Homo sapiens: one gene and its partner. The protein of the gene in region 1 purifies or fractionates together with the protein of each later gene. This does not show direct contact. Each region holds a gene or a part of one and is shown on either strand. Other genes may lie near its edges.

What was found. The genes of interacting proteins can lie anywhere in the genome.
Region 2: the proteins of ZNF684 (region 1) and POTEE purify together in Homo sapiens (affinity purification with mass spectrometry; 2 studies listed by BioGRID and IntAct, with this or other methods). This does not show direct contact.

The regions. Positions count from the first base shown.
Region 1 is NC_000001.11:40,526,158-40,535,623, reverse strand, and holds the start of ZNF684 (zinc finger protein 684), read right to left. Parts: upstream 3,988-9,466; 5' UTR 3,837-3,987; intron 2,482-3,836; 5' UTR 2,458-2,481; coding exon 2,443-2,457; intron 1-2,442. UniProt on the Homo sapiens protein: May be involved in transcriptional regulation.
Region 2 is NC_000002.12:131,261,282-131,267,100, reverse strand, and holds the end of POTEE (POTE ankyrin domain family member E), read right to left. Parts: intron 5,376-5,819; coding exon 5,255-5,375; intron 3,747-5,254; coding exon 2,418-3,746; 3' UTR 1,823-2,417; downstream 1-1,822.

The DNA.
Region 1 (9,466 bases):
TAACTTGATTAAAAACAAAATAAAAAAAAAACAACTATCTACTAGAATACAAGAGGAAACGGTGAAACACTGGGAGCACTCCCATTAAAATTAGGACAAAAAAGACTTCTGGCTAGCAATTACAGTTAATCCCTGAACAACACAGGTTTGAACTGCCTGGTTCCACTTATACTCAGATTTTTTTGCAATGAATATAGTTGGCCCTTGGTTGGCAGGTTCTGCATCTACAACCAAATGCAGATAAAAAAAAATACAGTATTCTTGCCATGCAAAACCCATGAATATGGATGGCCAACTTTTCCTATCCTTAAGTTCCACAGGGCCAACTGTACTGTGGGACTTCATTATGTTCAGATTTGGGGATCTGCAGGAGTTCTGCAACCAGTCTCCCATGGATACCACAGGATGGCTGTTTATTCAAAACTGCAGTGACTAGAAGTCCTGGCCATTGCAATGAGACAAGGAAAATATGGGGGAAGGTATAAATATTGGGCAGGAAGAGATAAAACTCCATTTGGAATGTATGATTGTCTACCTAAGAAATAGAAGAATCAACTAAAGAACTCTTAGATCTAACAAGAGTTCTGTACATTGGCTGGATATAAATTCAACATAGAGAAATCCATCTTTTCTTTTCTTCAGAGACAGGGTCACCCAGGCTAGAGTGCAGTGCTGTGACCATAGCTAGCTATAGCCTTGATCTTCTAGGCTCAACAGATCCTCCTGCCCTAGCCTACCTAGTAGCTGGAACTACAGGTGTGTGCCATCATGCCATGCTAATTAATTTTTTTTTTCTAGAGATGGGGTCTTGCTATATTGCCCAGGCTGGTCTTGAACTCCTGGCCTCAAGCAATCCTCCCACCTTAGCCTCCCAAAGTGCTGGGAATATAGGCATGAACCACCATGCCCAGCCAAGAGAAGTCCATATTTTTCTATTTACCAAAATAGCCAATTAGAAGAGATAATGAAAAAAAGGCCTACCTCATTCTCAATAGCAACTAAAACCATATGTAAGAATAAATATAAGAAATGTACAGGAATTACAATAAGAAACTTATAAAACCTATAAAATTATAATAAAAGGGCCGGGTGCGGTGGCTCATGCCTATAATCCCAGCACTTTGGGAGGCTGAGATGGGTGGATCACCTGAGGTCAGGAGTTCGAGACCAGCCTGACCAACATGGTGAAACCCTGTCTCTACTAAAAATACAAAAATTAGCCGGGCGTGGTGGCGGGCACCTGTAATCCCACCTACTCAGGAAGCTGAGGCAGGAGAATCACTTGAACTCAGGAGATGGAGGTTGCAGTAAGCCAAGATTGTGCCACTGCACTCCAGCCTGGGTAACAGAGTGAAACTCTGTCTCAAAAAAAAAAAAAAAAAAAAAATTATAATAAAAGACCTATAAGAAAACCTGAATAAATAGGACTCATTGAAAAGTCATGAATTCTCTCCAAATTAACCTATTAAGTTTAATGCAATCCTAATAAGAATATCTGGCCGGGCGCAGTGGTTCACAACTGTAATCCTACCAGCACTTTGGAAGGCTGAGGCAGGCAGATCACTTGAGGTCAGGAATTCGAGACCAGCCTGGTCAACAAGGTGAAACCCCGTCTCTACTAAAAACACAAAAATTAGCTGGGCGTGGTGGCACATGCCTGTAATCCAAGCTACTTGGGAGGTTGAGGCAGGAGAATCGCTTGAACCTGGGAGGTAGAGGTTGCAGTGAGCTGAGATCACGCCATTGTACTCCAGCCTAGGCAACAGAGCAAGACTGTCTCAAAAAAAAAAAAAAAAAAAAGAATACCTAACATACTGCTTTATGAACCTTGACAATATTTGTTATTTTGATGACCTTAAAATTCATGTAGAAGAGTAAATGCTCAGGATAGCTAGAGACTGGAAAAGGTACAAGATTTACTTATGGATCCAGGTGGGCATTAAAAAGGCCACATACCTGGACTTATAAATTGAGTTCATTTAGTGCTGCTTGGCACTATGTTCTTACTCTAGGGAATACTCTAAGAAAGTCATAGGAAACCTGATGCTGTATTTATCGCAGGCTGCTGCTGTGAATGTTATTTCTAATGTTATCTATGTGAAAACTCATTAGAAAAGATTTTCTTCAAAGAACTGTGTCAGGAAAAACTTTACTTACAAGGAGAATAATTTTGCTTTATCTTCACAGCAATGCCAATACTTTTTAACTGGCTGGTTATCCATTTACTATGATTTCCAGGAAGACTGAGTACACATTTGCAGCTCAAATTTGTTCCAACCATCTGCAAACCCTATGACTTGAATATCAACTTACCAATCTTCTAAATTTCCTTTTAGACTTGATCTTTTATTTGGTTTACATTTTTCCTGACCATACATTTCCTTTTTATCATATGGATTTTTGGGAGATTTAAACAACTGGATGAATAGATGGATACCTTACCTGGAAGCTGATCATTTTCTGCAGCTCTTACACAGAAATCTATGAAAGTAGAAATGGGGAAGAGAATAGAAAGACCTGAGATACCAGGACTGCATGCAAAGTAGAACCCTGCTCTATCAGACCATAAGTACCCACACTGCAGCCTCAGAAAATGCCACCTAGTGGGGGAGAATGACATTTCTAGCAAGACAGAAAAGTCCATGTTCCATAAGCACAGATCTCTACTTGTGATTGTTAGGAATATATGGAGCTTAGATAAGGATGTTATATGTTTCTGTCCTACTGATCTAGCACCAAGTGGTTCCTCTTGAAACAGTTATTTTTTTTCCTCCCAGAAATTTATCCTGAAGAAATAATGAATGAGTTGACTCACTTAAAAGCTTGGTCTCTGAAGCTCCGTAAGTCTAAAAATGATTCCTTCCTGTGATTCTCTGGTTTCTACTCTGACGCTGGGATAAGAGATTGCAAATTAGGTTGGGCTTTCTTGAGAAGGCTGGATTCAGGGACCCAGGAACACTTTTTTTTATTTTTTTTTTGTTAAGCTGGATCCTTCAGTTTAAACTCCAAATGTTTCTCTCTGTAGAAACTCGCCATCTCCTATGAGCTTAGAACTGCTGGGGCTCTAGAAAGGGTATAATGGGCAAACCGGGGACTCACATCTTCATTTACACAGTCTGCACTGGAAGATCTGCAGATACACCAAGAGACTCTACAAAATGACTACAAATCGAAATTTACTCAGCATTCATTGCTCAAACATTTCAGGAGAATAAACCCAACTCTGTTTTATGCAGGAATGCTATACTGTAAAAAAAAAAAAAAAGAAATTTGGAGAAAATGTATCTGAGTTTGAATCTCAGTTCTTCCACTTACTAAGCTGTGTGAGTCCAGGCAAGTAATTTCACCTTTCAGCTTCAGTTAACTCATATGCAAAATGGTAATAGCATTTACTTCAAATGATTGCTGAGAATACCCTTCTAATCCATAGCAGTTTCTCAAGAATGCTTTCTTCCTGGATCCCTTGAAATAGCTTACAGTTTCCACTGGATCCCTTGACACGGCTTAAAATTGTCGCAGGCTCCAGTCGGGCCAACTATGCTCTTGGAACCAGGAAAGGTACAGTTAGATGAACAGACTCCTACATAGTGACCTTGACCTACAAGAGCAGGAATGCAAATTGAGCCTCTCCCAGTCCCACCAGAGCCCTGGACATCTACCCAGTGCCAGTCGGAGCCCAACTCTTGCTTTCTCTCAGCTACTCGAGTTGAACAGGACCCACATATCCAAACCTGAAGTCACTGCGCTTGGAGACTAAAGTTTTATCTTCGGTAGGGTAAACCTAGAAGCCAGTCCCCGCCTTTCTCTTACGTCCTCCGAGTCCAGCAAAGCCATACCTGCCACCCTTTCACTGCCTCGCTCGCAGCTCCGGCTCCAAGCCTGGGATCAGTCACAGCGTCGTCCAGAGACAGGGGAGCAACACCCGCCCGCACTTCCCGCGGCGCTGATTTGAAGATTGAATACCGGCTACCGTCCTACTACGCGTGTGCGGAAGTAACTGTCCACCTAGAGTTCCTGGACTCCTCCCGGGTGTAGGCCATCCGTCGGAGACCACATTTCCCATAAGGCCAGTGGAGCTCGTTTCCGGAAGACGTCAGACGCTGCTTCCTCTTGGGGGGTGGTGCGGAGATTCCCGGGTTGGTATCTCTATTGCTAGCCTGAGAGCCACGCTTTTTAAGTCGTTTTCATTTAAAAGGATACACAGCATTTTTAAATACTGGAAAGTAAAATCGGCGGTATGCTAAAAACAATTTGCTCTTACTCAGCAGGGTTTCTTCTAGCAATGCACCAGGTTAAGTCGGAGAGGTGAAGAGGATCCAACAAAGAAGACTGAGAAGGAATAATCCATGAAGTAGATGGAAAAGTAGGAGAGTTTAGATCTGCAAAACCAAGGGAAGGAAGTGTTTCAAGAAGGGAGTGACCCATTGTCTCAAATGTTGCTCATAGGTCAAGTAAAATGAGAATTAAGAATGGGCCACTGTAGCAATGGTCACCAGTGATGTTGAAACGCCATTTTGGCAGTGGTGGAAGTTTGATAAAGTCTGATGAAAATTTGATAGGAGTTGGAGGGAAGGATGGGAGGAGAGGAAATGGAGAAAGCAAATATACGCAATACTTTTAAGAAGTTTTGTTTTTAAGGTGAGCAGAAAAATAAGGCTATCATGGGATAGGGATTTTGTTAATCTTTTGTTGTTGCGTTTTTCCACGTTCTAATTTTTTTTTTTTTTTTAATTCAAAGATGGGGCTGAGTGTGGTGGCTTATGCCTGTAATCCTAACATTTCAGGAGGCCAAAGTGGGAGGATTGGTTGAGCCCAGGAGTCTGAAACTGCCTAGGCAACATAGTGAGACCCTCATCTCTACAAAAAATAAAAAACTAGCCTGGCATGGCACCCGCCTGAAGTCCCAACTACTTGAGAGGCTGAGATGGGAGGATCGCTTGAGCCCAGACAGTAGAGACTGCAGTGAGCCGTGATCCCGCCACTGCACTGCAGCATGGGCGACAGAGCTAGTCTCTGTCTCAAAAAAATAAAATAAAAAAGATGGAAGAAATTATAGTAAGTTTATGTACTAATTAAAAGGATCTAGGCTGGGCGCAGTGGCTCACGCCTGTAATCCCAGCACTTTGGGAAGCTTAGGTGGGCAGATCACCTGAGGTCAGGAGTTGGAGACCAGCCTGGCCAACGTGGTGAAACCCCGTCTCTACTAAAAATACAAAAATTAGCCGGGCGTGGTGGCAGACGCCTGTAAACCCAGCTACCTGGGAGGCTGAGGCGGGAGAATCACTTGAACCCGGGAGGCAGAGGTTGCAGTGAGCCGAGATCACACCACTGCACTCCAGCCTGGGCGACAGAGCGAGGCTCTGTCTCAAATAAATGAATTAGTTAATAAAATAAAACAAAAGATCCAGTAGAGGCGGGAAATACACAATTCAGGATAGACAGGCTAGTTACTCGGAGGAATGTCCTTGAGAAGAGAAGGGATGGAATCCAGTACACAATCACAGGGATCATTCTAAGTAAGAGTATGGATAATTCATCTCCATTGAAATAAAAGGGGAGGCAGAGTTTATAAGTACAGATCCAAACAGGTGGACAAATATGGTGGTAGGAGAAAGAGGATGCCCTGTTCTGAGTGCTTCTATTTTCCCAGTGAAATAGGAAGCTGAAATGAAGATAGGGGGAAAGTATTTTAGACTTGACAGAAAAGATGAATACCGTATTATGATGATTTTGAAACATGATTTTTTCATATTTTAACATCTGTGAAATTGCTGTCTTACAAGTGATGGCATTCCATAGTTTAATCAGGAGCATTGTTTTTTATTAGTATATAAAATAATAATACAACTTATAATCAATGGCATCTGAGATTCGATAAAGTATGATTTATGAATGTGAGCAAGTGAATAGATTAAGGAAATGTAGTACTATTGCCTGGCACCATTAAGAACTGGCTTGATATTAGTAGCCATTATCGCTTCTCAGCCTTTTGGCTAAGATCAAGTGATATTAGTACCCACTGACTTTACTAGCATTTTCTATGCAATAAACACATCTCTCTCTCTCTGCCTCCCCTCCCGTCCCCTCCCCTCCCCTCTCCTCTCCTCTCTCTCAACAGAAAGGACATATATTAAAGACATGGGTAGTAGAATAAATTCATTACATCTTAATATCTAAAGTATTTTGGACCAAATTACTTATGTATTTTTATTAGAAACAGTATGTATTTTGTGCAACCCAAAAATTAGGCATTTAATTTTACAAAACATTTCATTATGGTAATTTTAAACTATGCAATAGTAGAAAGAATAGTGGTGAACTTCCATGTATCCATCCCCCAACTCCAATAATTATCAACTCAGGGCCAATTCTGTTTCATCTCTACCCCCAACCCCATTGCATAGTATTTTGAAGCAAATCCCAGAGCATATAATTTCACCAATAAAAATAAAGACTTAAAAAACCATATTATTATCACATCTAAAATATTAACAATATTTCCTTAACATCATCAAACATTGAGTCATTGTTCAAATTATCAATTTTCTCATAATTGCAATTTCTTTTAGAGTTTTTAAAAAATTAAGTACAAACGTTGGGCACAGTGGCTCATGCCTGTAACCACATCACTTTGGGAGGCTGAAGAAGAGGGAGGATTGCTTGAGGCCAAGAGTTTGAGGCTGCAGTCAGCTATGATCATACCACAACTTTAGAGGTTGTAAAAAAGGGACACTCTAATTCTATCATTCCTTTGTCATTTAGCAGCTGGATTATTCCTATAAAGAGGAACTTCATATCATGTACTATGTAGTTATTCAGGTATACAGTTCACATAGGAATGTCAGGAAAAAAATTTATTTACCAGTTTTCAACTTAACATCCCAATTATCTCTTAAACATGACCAATTTTTGAGCATCATTATGAACTCATAGATTTAAACATGTTTGATGTGCTTCAATCTATTGCTATTGTTATCCCTACTGATATTCAAACTGTCACATCTTTGGCCATTGGGAGCCTCTTTAAGTTGGCTCTTGAGAGTCCTCTTCTTTTGGAATGATCCTATTAGTCTTCAATAGCTTGTTATCTATATGACAAGGTGCTTCAGGTTTCTCTTGTTCATTTCCTGACCCAGACCTTAAATCAGCCATTTCTCCAAGGAACCTGGCTCTTTTTAATGGGAGATGGTATTTCAAGACCTTGATCAGGCATCTGGTGGTGTTCACTGCTCCTGGGTTGGTTAGACATTGACTTTGAAGTTTTGAATTTCTGACATACTAGTGGCTAACAGTGTGGGCTGCAGAGATAGACTGCCTGGATTTGAATCAGTGCACTACCTCTTATTAGGTATGCAACACTGGGCCAGTTTATAAATTTATCTGTGCCTCAGATTCCTCAAATGTAAAATGAGAACAATAACAGTACCTAAATTTGTAGGACCCTGGTGAGGTTTGTAAAAATTGATATATAATAACTGTACATATTTATGGGGTACATAGTGATATTTTGACATATAGTGTATATATATAGTGCATGTGTATACATAGGCATAGTGTATATGTATAATGTATAGTGTTCAGATCAGGGTAATTAACATATACTTCATCTCAAATATTTATCATCTCTTTGTGTTGGGAATATTCAATACCTTCCTTCTAGCTATCTGAAACTATATTATTGTTATAGTCATCCTATAGTGGTATAGAACATGAGAATTTATTCCTGCTATCTAGCTGTAATTTTCTATCCTTTAACAAATATCTTCCTATCCCCTCCTTCCCCAAACTCGTCCTACCCTTTAGTATCCTCTTCTCTCCTTTTTACTTCTATAAGATCAAGTTTTTAAAGCTTCTGCATGTGAGAACATGCGTTGTTTAACCTTCTTTTCTTGGCTTATTTCACATAACATAATGTTCCCCAGTTACATATGTGTTGCTGAGAATGACAGGATTTGATTTGACTTGATTTTTTTTATTATACTTTAAGTTCTAGGGTACATGTGCACAACTTGCAGGTTTGTTACATATGTATACATGTGCCATGTTGGTGTGCTGCACCCATTAACTTGTCATTTACATTAAGTATTTCTCCTAATGTTATCCTTCCCCCTTCCCCCCACTCCATAACAGGTCCCAGTGTGTGATGTTCCCCACCCTGTGTCTAGGTGATCTCATTGTTCAATTCCCACCTGTGAGTGAGAACATGCAGTGTTTGGTTTTCTGTCCTTGTGATAGTTTGCTCAGAATGATGGTTTCCAGCCTCATCCATGTCCCTACAAAGGACATGAACTCATCCTTTTTTATGGCTGCAAAGTATTCCATAGTGTATATGTGCCACATTTTCTTAATCCAGTCTATCATTGATGGACATTTGGGTTGGTTCCAAGTCTTTGCTATTGTGAATAGTGCCACAATAAACATACGTGTGCATGTGTCTTTAGAGCAGCATGATTTATAATCCTTTAGGTATATGCCCAGTAATGGGATGGCTGGGTCAAATGGTATTTCTAGTTCTAGATCCTTGAGGAATCACCACACTGTCTCCCACAATGGTTGAACTAGTTTACAGTCCCACCAACAGTGTAAAAACGTTCCTATTTCTCCACAGCCTCTCCAGCACCTGTTGTTTCCTGACTTTTTAATGATCGCCATTCTAACTGGTGCAAGATAGTATCTCATTGTGGTTTTGATTTGCATTTCTCTGATGGCCAGTGATGATGAGCATTTTTTCATGTGTCTGTTGGCTGCATAAATGTCTTCTTTTGAGAAGTGTGTGTTCATATCCTTTGCCCACTTTTTGATGGGGTTATTTGATTTTTTCTTGTAAATTTGTTTAAGTTCTTTGTAGATTCTGGATATTAGCCCTTTGTCAGATGGGTAGATTGTAAAAATTTTCTCCCATTCTGTAGGTTGCCTGCTCACTGCAACCTCTGCCTCATCGGTTCAAGCGATTCTCCTGGCTCAGCCTCCCGAGTAGCTGGGACTACAGGTGTGTGCCACCACGCCCAGCTAATTTTTGTATTTTTAGTAGAGACAGGGTTTCACCATGTTGGCCAGGATAGTCTCAATCTCTTGACCTTGTTATCCGCCCACCTCGGTCTCCCAAAGTGCTGGGATTACAGGCACGAGCTACTGCACCTGGCTGATTTTATTCTTTTTTTCTGGCTAAATAGTATTCCATTGTCCATATATGCCACATTTTCTTCATCCATTCATCTATTGTTAGACACCTAGGTTGATTCCATATCTTGGCTATTGTGAATAGTGATGCAATAAATATGGGGATGCAGATATCTCTTTGATATGCTTATTTCCTTTTATTTGGATAAATGCCCCAGTAGGATTGCTGGATCACATAATTCTATTTGTAGTTTTTAAAGGAAACGCCATAGTGTTCTCCGCAGTGTCTGTACTAATTTGCATTCCCACCAACAGTGTAAGAGTTCCGTTTTGTCCACATCCTAAA
Region 2 (5,819 bases), on another chromosome or scaffold:
CTCTGCTGGGCAATCTTGCATATAAGATGTGGCTGGTATGACCTCAGCATTCCTAAAGTGCTGGGACAAAGTGTCTCACAAGGGCAAGTGGACCCTAGAGAGATAGCCATCCCTGACCTCTGGGCTCCACATCACCTGACTTGCTGCTCCACCACTTTGCTTGTTTCCTGGGTGCTCCATCCCAGAGACATGTGAGTTAGCAATCACTTAGTGTAATCAGCCCAGGATGGAGGGTCTGTGCTGTGAGCCCAAGCCAGGGTTCCCTGTCTGGTGATGAGTAGTGGAGGGTGTGTGGTACCCGTGGGAGATGGACTGGCTTGTTCTTTGGGTCAACTGCAGCTTATTGGAGGTGTTGATAGGGCACTTAGGGTCTTTGCTCCCTTGCATCTTCTGAGGGTAGCAAGGGCAGTTCCACTGCAGAGGCAGTGGCAGAAAGGATTTCATTTGCTCCTGGAAGCTCTGTCCCAGGAACTGCAGAGTTGCTACTGGCTTGATAGCTCCAGTGGTGGGCTGGCTAGAGACCCAGGCCAGGAGGATCTGCCCATCAAGTAGAGAGCCCGGCCACTTTTCTGTAGGGCTGCTGTGGTATGCTGGGGGTCCCCTCCAGTCCCTAATTGCCTTGTATTTTCCAGGGAAGATGATAGTCTGCCCCTTCCTCTGGAAGCTCTGTACCACTGAGGTACGAACCTGTTGCCAATCTGAACACACCTATAAGATGTGGCTGGAGGCAAGTTGAGAAGTCTTACCTAGTCAGGACGAACAAGAACAGGGACTTGCTTCAAAAAAAAAAGTCTGGCCACGTTTTTATAGAGCAGCTGTGCTGTGCTGGGGGTTCACTTCAGCCCCTGGTCCACCTCAGACACTCTGAAGCCCTAAGGCTGAAATGGCTGGGTCACCCAAACAGCAAAGATGACAATCTGGTCCTCCCCCTGGGAGCTCTGACTCAGGGAGGCCTGAGACCTCTGTCGGCCAGAGAACAGCAGTCAAGGTAGCCAGAGACCCTGGTTGAAAGACTTCACCCGCTGACTAGAAATGTGGTCAGGGACTGACGTAAACAAGAGTCTGGCCACGTTTTTGTAGCGTGGCTGTGCTGTGCTGAGGTACCTCTTCCACCCCTTGTCAGCTTGGGCTCTCCAAAGCCCGCAGGCCAGAATGGCTAGTCACCAAAAGAGCAAAGGTGGGGGCCTGCCCCTCTCCGGGAGCTCTGTCCCAGGAACATTTCACATTTCCATTGGCCAAGGAATGCTGGTGGGGGTAGCTGGAGGCCCCAGTTGGGAGGTCCTGTCCAGTGAGGTGGAACAGGATCAGGGGCCTGCTTACAGAAGCAGTCTGGCCATGATTTGGTAAAGCAGCTATGCTGTGCTGTGGGATCTCTTCTGTCCCTCGTCGGTTTGTACTCTCCAAAGCCCGCAGGCTGGAATGACTAAGTTGCCTGAACGGGAAAGATGGCGGCCTGCCCCGTCTTTTCTCTCAGAGTTTTATCTTGTTTCGTGGAGCTTAATTTTTAGCCTGTTGATTTTACTGTCTACATTAGACTTGTTGAGAAAGAATCTGTTCTCTTTTAGGTGAGATAAATGAGAATTCATTGTCTTCTGTAAATAAACCTGTTCATGTCTTGTTCTCTGGAAAGAAGTCTCTTTCAGCTATCTGACTTTGGTCACAATCATGTAGAGCAGCAGCCAGTCTACAATGACGTAATTGAATTTCCATTTCCAGTGTTTCCTCGTTGTGTCTTACATTGTCCAGTTCAGAACTGAGCATTTTATTCTCAGTTGTCAACATGCTAAGCTGTCCACTGTACTGAAATACTGTGCTTCCTCAATTTTTTTTAAGGTGTGCACTTTTATCCAACTCTCCTCAAGTCAGAGTACAGGTAAGCCCTGGCTGCCTCCAGCCACTCTCAGGGAGACCAAAAGCCTTCATACACCCCAAGTTGGGGTACAAAAGAGGGGGGCCACGAAGGCTGATCATTCAAAATAAAACAAAATTAAAAAGTATTAAGGCGAAGATTCAAAAAATTTTGCATTATGTAATTTGCACAAAAGCAATGCTATCACCTCCCCTGTGTGAACTAGGGAGAGGACTGGGCCATTCTCCTTAGAGAGAAGTGGGATGGCTTTTAGCAGGGCAAGGGGCTTCCTGAAACAATGCGTCTCACAATATTTGGAATGACTATTGAAAAGAAGAACAATGTACAATCAAAGTCCTTGGCAACATTGTAGAACTTTGGAGGAAGCTTCCTCCAACCGACTGCTGTCACCTTCACCATTCCGGTTTTTAAATCCTGAGTCAAGCCAATAAAAAACAAAACAAAAAATGAAACAAGAAAACAAATAAAGCCATGCCAATCTCATGTTGTTTTCTGAGAAGTTTGGTTTTGTCAAGAAAGGGTGTAACGCAACTAAGTCAGAGTCCACCTAGAAGCATTTGCGGTGGACAATGGAGGGGCCTGACTCATCATACTCCTGCTTGCTGATCCACATCTGCTGGAAGGTGGACAGCGAGGCCAGGATGGAGCCACCGACCCACACGGAGTACTTGCGCTTGGGAGGAGCAATGATCCTGATCTTCATCATGCTAGGCGCCAGGGCAGCGATCTCCTTCTGCATTCTGTGGGCCATGCCAGGGTACATGGTGGTGCCGCCAGACAGCACTGTGTTGGTGTACAGGTCTTTGCGGATGTCCACATCAGACTTCATGATGGAGTTGAAGGTAGTTTCATGGATGCCACAGGATTCCATGCCCAGGAAGCAAGGCTGGAAGAGCGCCTCGGGGCAGCGGAACCGCTCGTTGCCGATGGTGATGACCTGGCCATCGGGCAGCTCGTAGCTCTTCTCTAGGGAGGAGCTGGAGGCCGCCGTGGCCATCTCCTGCTCGAAGTCCAGGGCAACATAGCACAGCTTCTCTTTGATGTCACGCACGATTTCCCGCTCGGCCATGGTGGTGAACCTATAGCCACGCTCGGTGAGGATCTTCATGAGGTAGTCAGGCAGTTCCCGCCCAGCCAGGTCTAGGCGCAGGGTGGCATGGGGGAGGGCATTCCCCTCATAGATGGGCACAGTGTGGGTGACCCCGTCACCAGAGTCCATCACGATGCCAGTAGTACGGCCAGAGGTGTACAGGGACGGCACGGCCTGGATGGCCACGTACATGGCTGGGGTGTTGAAGGTCTCAAACATGATCTGGGTCATCTTCTCGCGGTTGGCCTTGGGGTTCAGGGGGGCCTCGGTCAGCAGGATGGGGTGCTCCTCGGGAGCCACACGCAGCTCGTTGTAGAAGGTGTGGTGCCAGATCTTCTCCATGTCATCCCAGTTGGTGATGATGCCGTGTTCCATGGGGTACTTCAGGGTCAGGATGCCTCTCTTGCTCTGGGCCTCCTTGCCCACATAGGACTCTTTCTGATGCATGCCCCCCATCATGCCCTGCTGCCTGGGGCGCCCCACGATGGAAGGGAAGACAGCCCGGGGGGCATCGTCGCCCGCAAAGCCGGCCTTGCACATGCCAGAGCCGTTGTCAATGACGAGCACGGCGGTATCATCATCCATGGTGAGCTCATTCAATTGTAGAGCCTTTAAAAGATTATCATTCTTTTTTTTCACACTTTCAATATCCTCCAAATATTTCTTTTCTCTTAGCTGGCTCTGATGTTTCATTGTGTCTAGCTCCAGTCTTAGCATGGCAATTTCTTCCCGCAACGTACTATTTTCATGCAAGACGTCTTTTTCTTTCTTACAACTAAGAGAAAGCTAAGTAAACAAAGAGAACTTTTAGTTAGCACTCAATAGATTGACATATCATGATTTCTTCTGAAATTCAAAAATAACATGTATTTGTATAATGAAAGAATCCCCATAGTGGATATTTAACTGGAAAAAAATTGGACAAAACTTCAAACCTAATAAGAGTGTAAATTCCTCCAGTGATTTATTTTTCATCGTCTTTAAATAAATATTTAAACTTTTAGGAATCTGCTCCTAAATTCCTAAAAGTTTAAATATTTATTTAAAGACGATGAAAAATAAATCACTAGAGGATTTTTAAGAATCCCAGAATTAAAAAAGCCTTTTTCTGAGTTACAAAAAACCCAGAGGCATAAAATATAAGATTAATAATTTGACTACATTTTTAAGATTAGGTTTACACTCTGATATCTAACCTATCAACCACACCATCCTAAGAGCCTTAGCTATGCATATATTTGGACAGAAGCAATTTCTCAAAGTTCTTTAAGTTTCTTTTACTGAAGAACGTTTTACCGATATTCTACATTTCTAATATTTCTATACTCAGTTATAAGAATTACATTTATTTATAACTGTCAAATCTAAGCACTGTACCCTTCTACACTGTACACATCTGTATCTAGGCATTGCTCTTCTACATATAATACTGAACTCATTTAAGATCGCGATTCTTAAAAGGAGAGGTCAAAAAATATACACAGATGCAGGATTTTCCCCAGGTCTGCTGATGCTACTTCTAGTGATCCTCCACAAAACCACACTTACTTCTGTGGTGTAAATATATAAATACAAAAGAAACCTTTTGTTTCAAAATATGAATGGTAAATAAGATACAACTTATAGAGATCTTCTTAGAAATCATGAGATTATTTGCCATTGCGGTAACTTTTATTTCCTCTTTATAATGTTTGAAACAGTAGTAATGGTGAAATAGGGGAAATATACTGAACTATTTCTCCAGAAACAAAATACTTATCAATAAATTATTACTAAATGTGTATCATGGCATGTCATTGTTTTCAAACCTCTTTACACTGAAATGAGAAACTACTTGGAGCAAACTGTTCCTCTCTGCAAAAGTAAGGATAATGGTATCCACAATGTGGCCTCTGACCCAGCTATACATTTCCTACTTTCTTATCAGTAAAAATAATCAATTGACTTCTCTATTAACATTTTTTAAAAAACTAATGTCCAAAAACGAGAAAATCTGTTTTCAGTAGCAAAACTTATTTCTGATGTGGAAAGATCATCAATTCTTATGAAAAACATCAAATACTTCTCCTTTGGATTGAGGCCATTGTGCAGGTCACTACTCAACTGTTGCAGGCAAATGAAGGTGAATTAAGAACATGGCTTTATCCTATACGTACGTATATAGATATATGACAAAGGATATATAGAATATATACACACATATATATGACTTAAAAATCCTTTATATTTCCAAAATACAGTTCTTTAAAATATACACACATATAAAAACATTTGAAAATAACTAAAGAAAATACCTCAGAATTCATTTTTTCAACCACTTCTATCTGCTTTTCTTCATGAATCAGAATCTCATCGTGTAATATTCCAGTGTTCTGTTCTTCACAAAATTGCTTCTGAGTATCATTTTGTTCGTCACTAGAAGAAATTTTAATTTTCATGAAATACTGGAGCTGTCCCTAAAATGATGTACAGGGCAAGATGGCGCCATCAGATGTCATTCACACAATGCATATCTGCACATTATTCCAAGACAAGGCAAAGGGGTCTCACATCTGTTAACCAGGTGTCCCCAACCATGCTGGCACCAGGGACTGGTTTTGTGGAAGATAATGTTTACAGGAACCTGAGGTGGGGGATGGTTCCAGGATGATTCAAGTATATTACATTCATTGTGCACTTTATTTCTATTATTATTAATATATAATGAAATAATTATATCTCACCAAAATGTAGAATCAGTGGGAGCCCTGAGCTTGTTTTCCTGCAACTAGATGGTCCCATTTGGGGGTGACGGAAGATGGTGACAGATCAGAAAGGCATTCGATTCTCATAAGGAGTGAACAACCTATATCCCCCTGC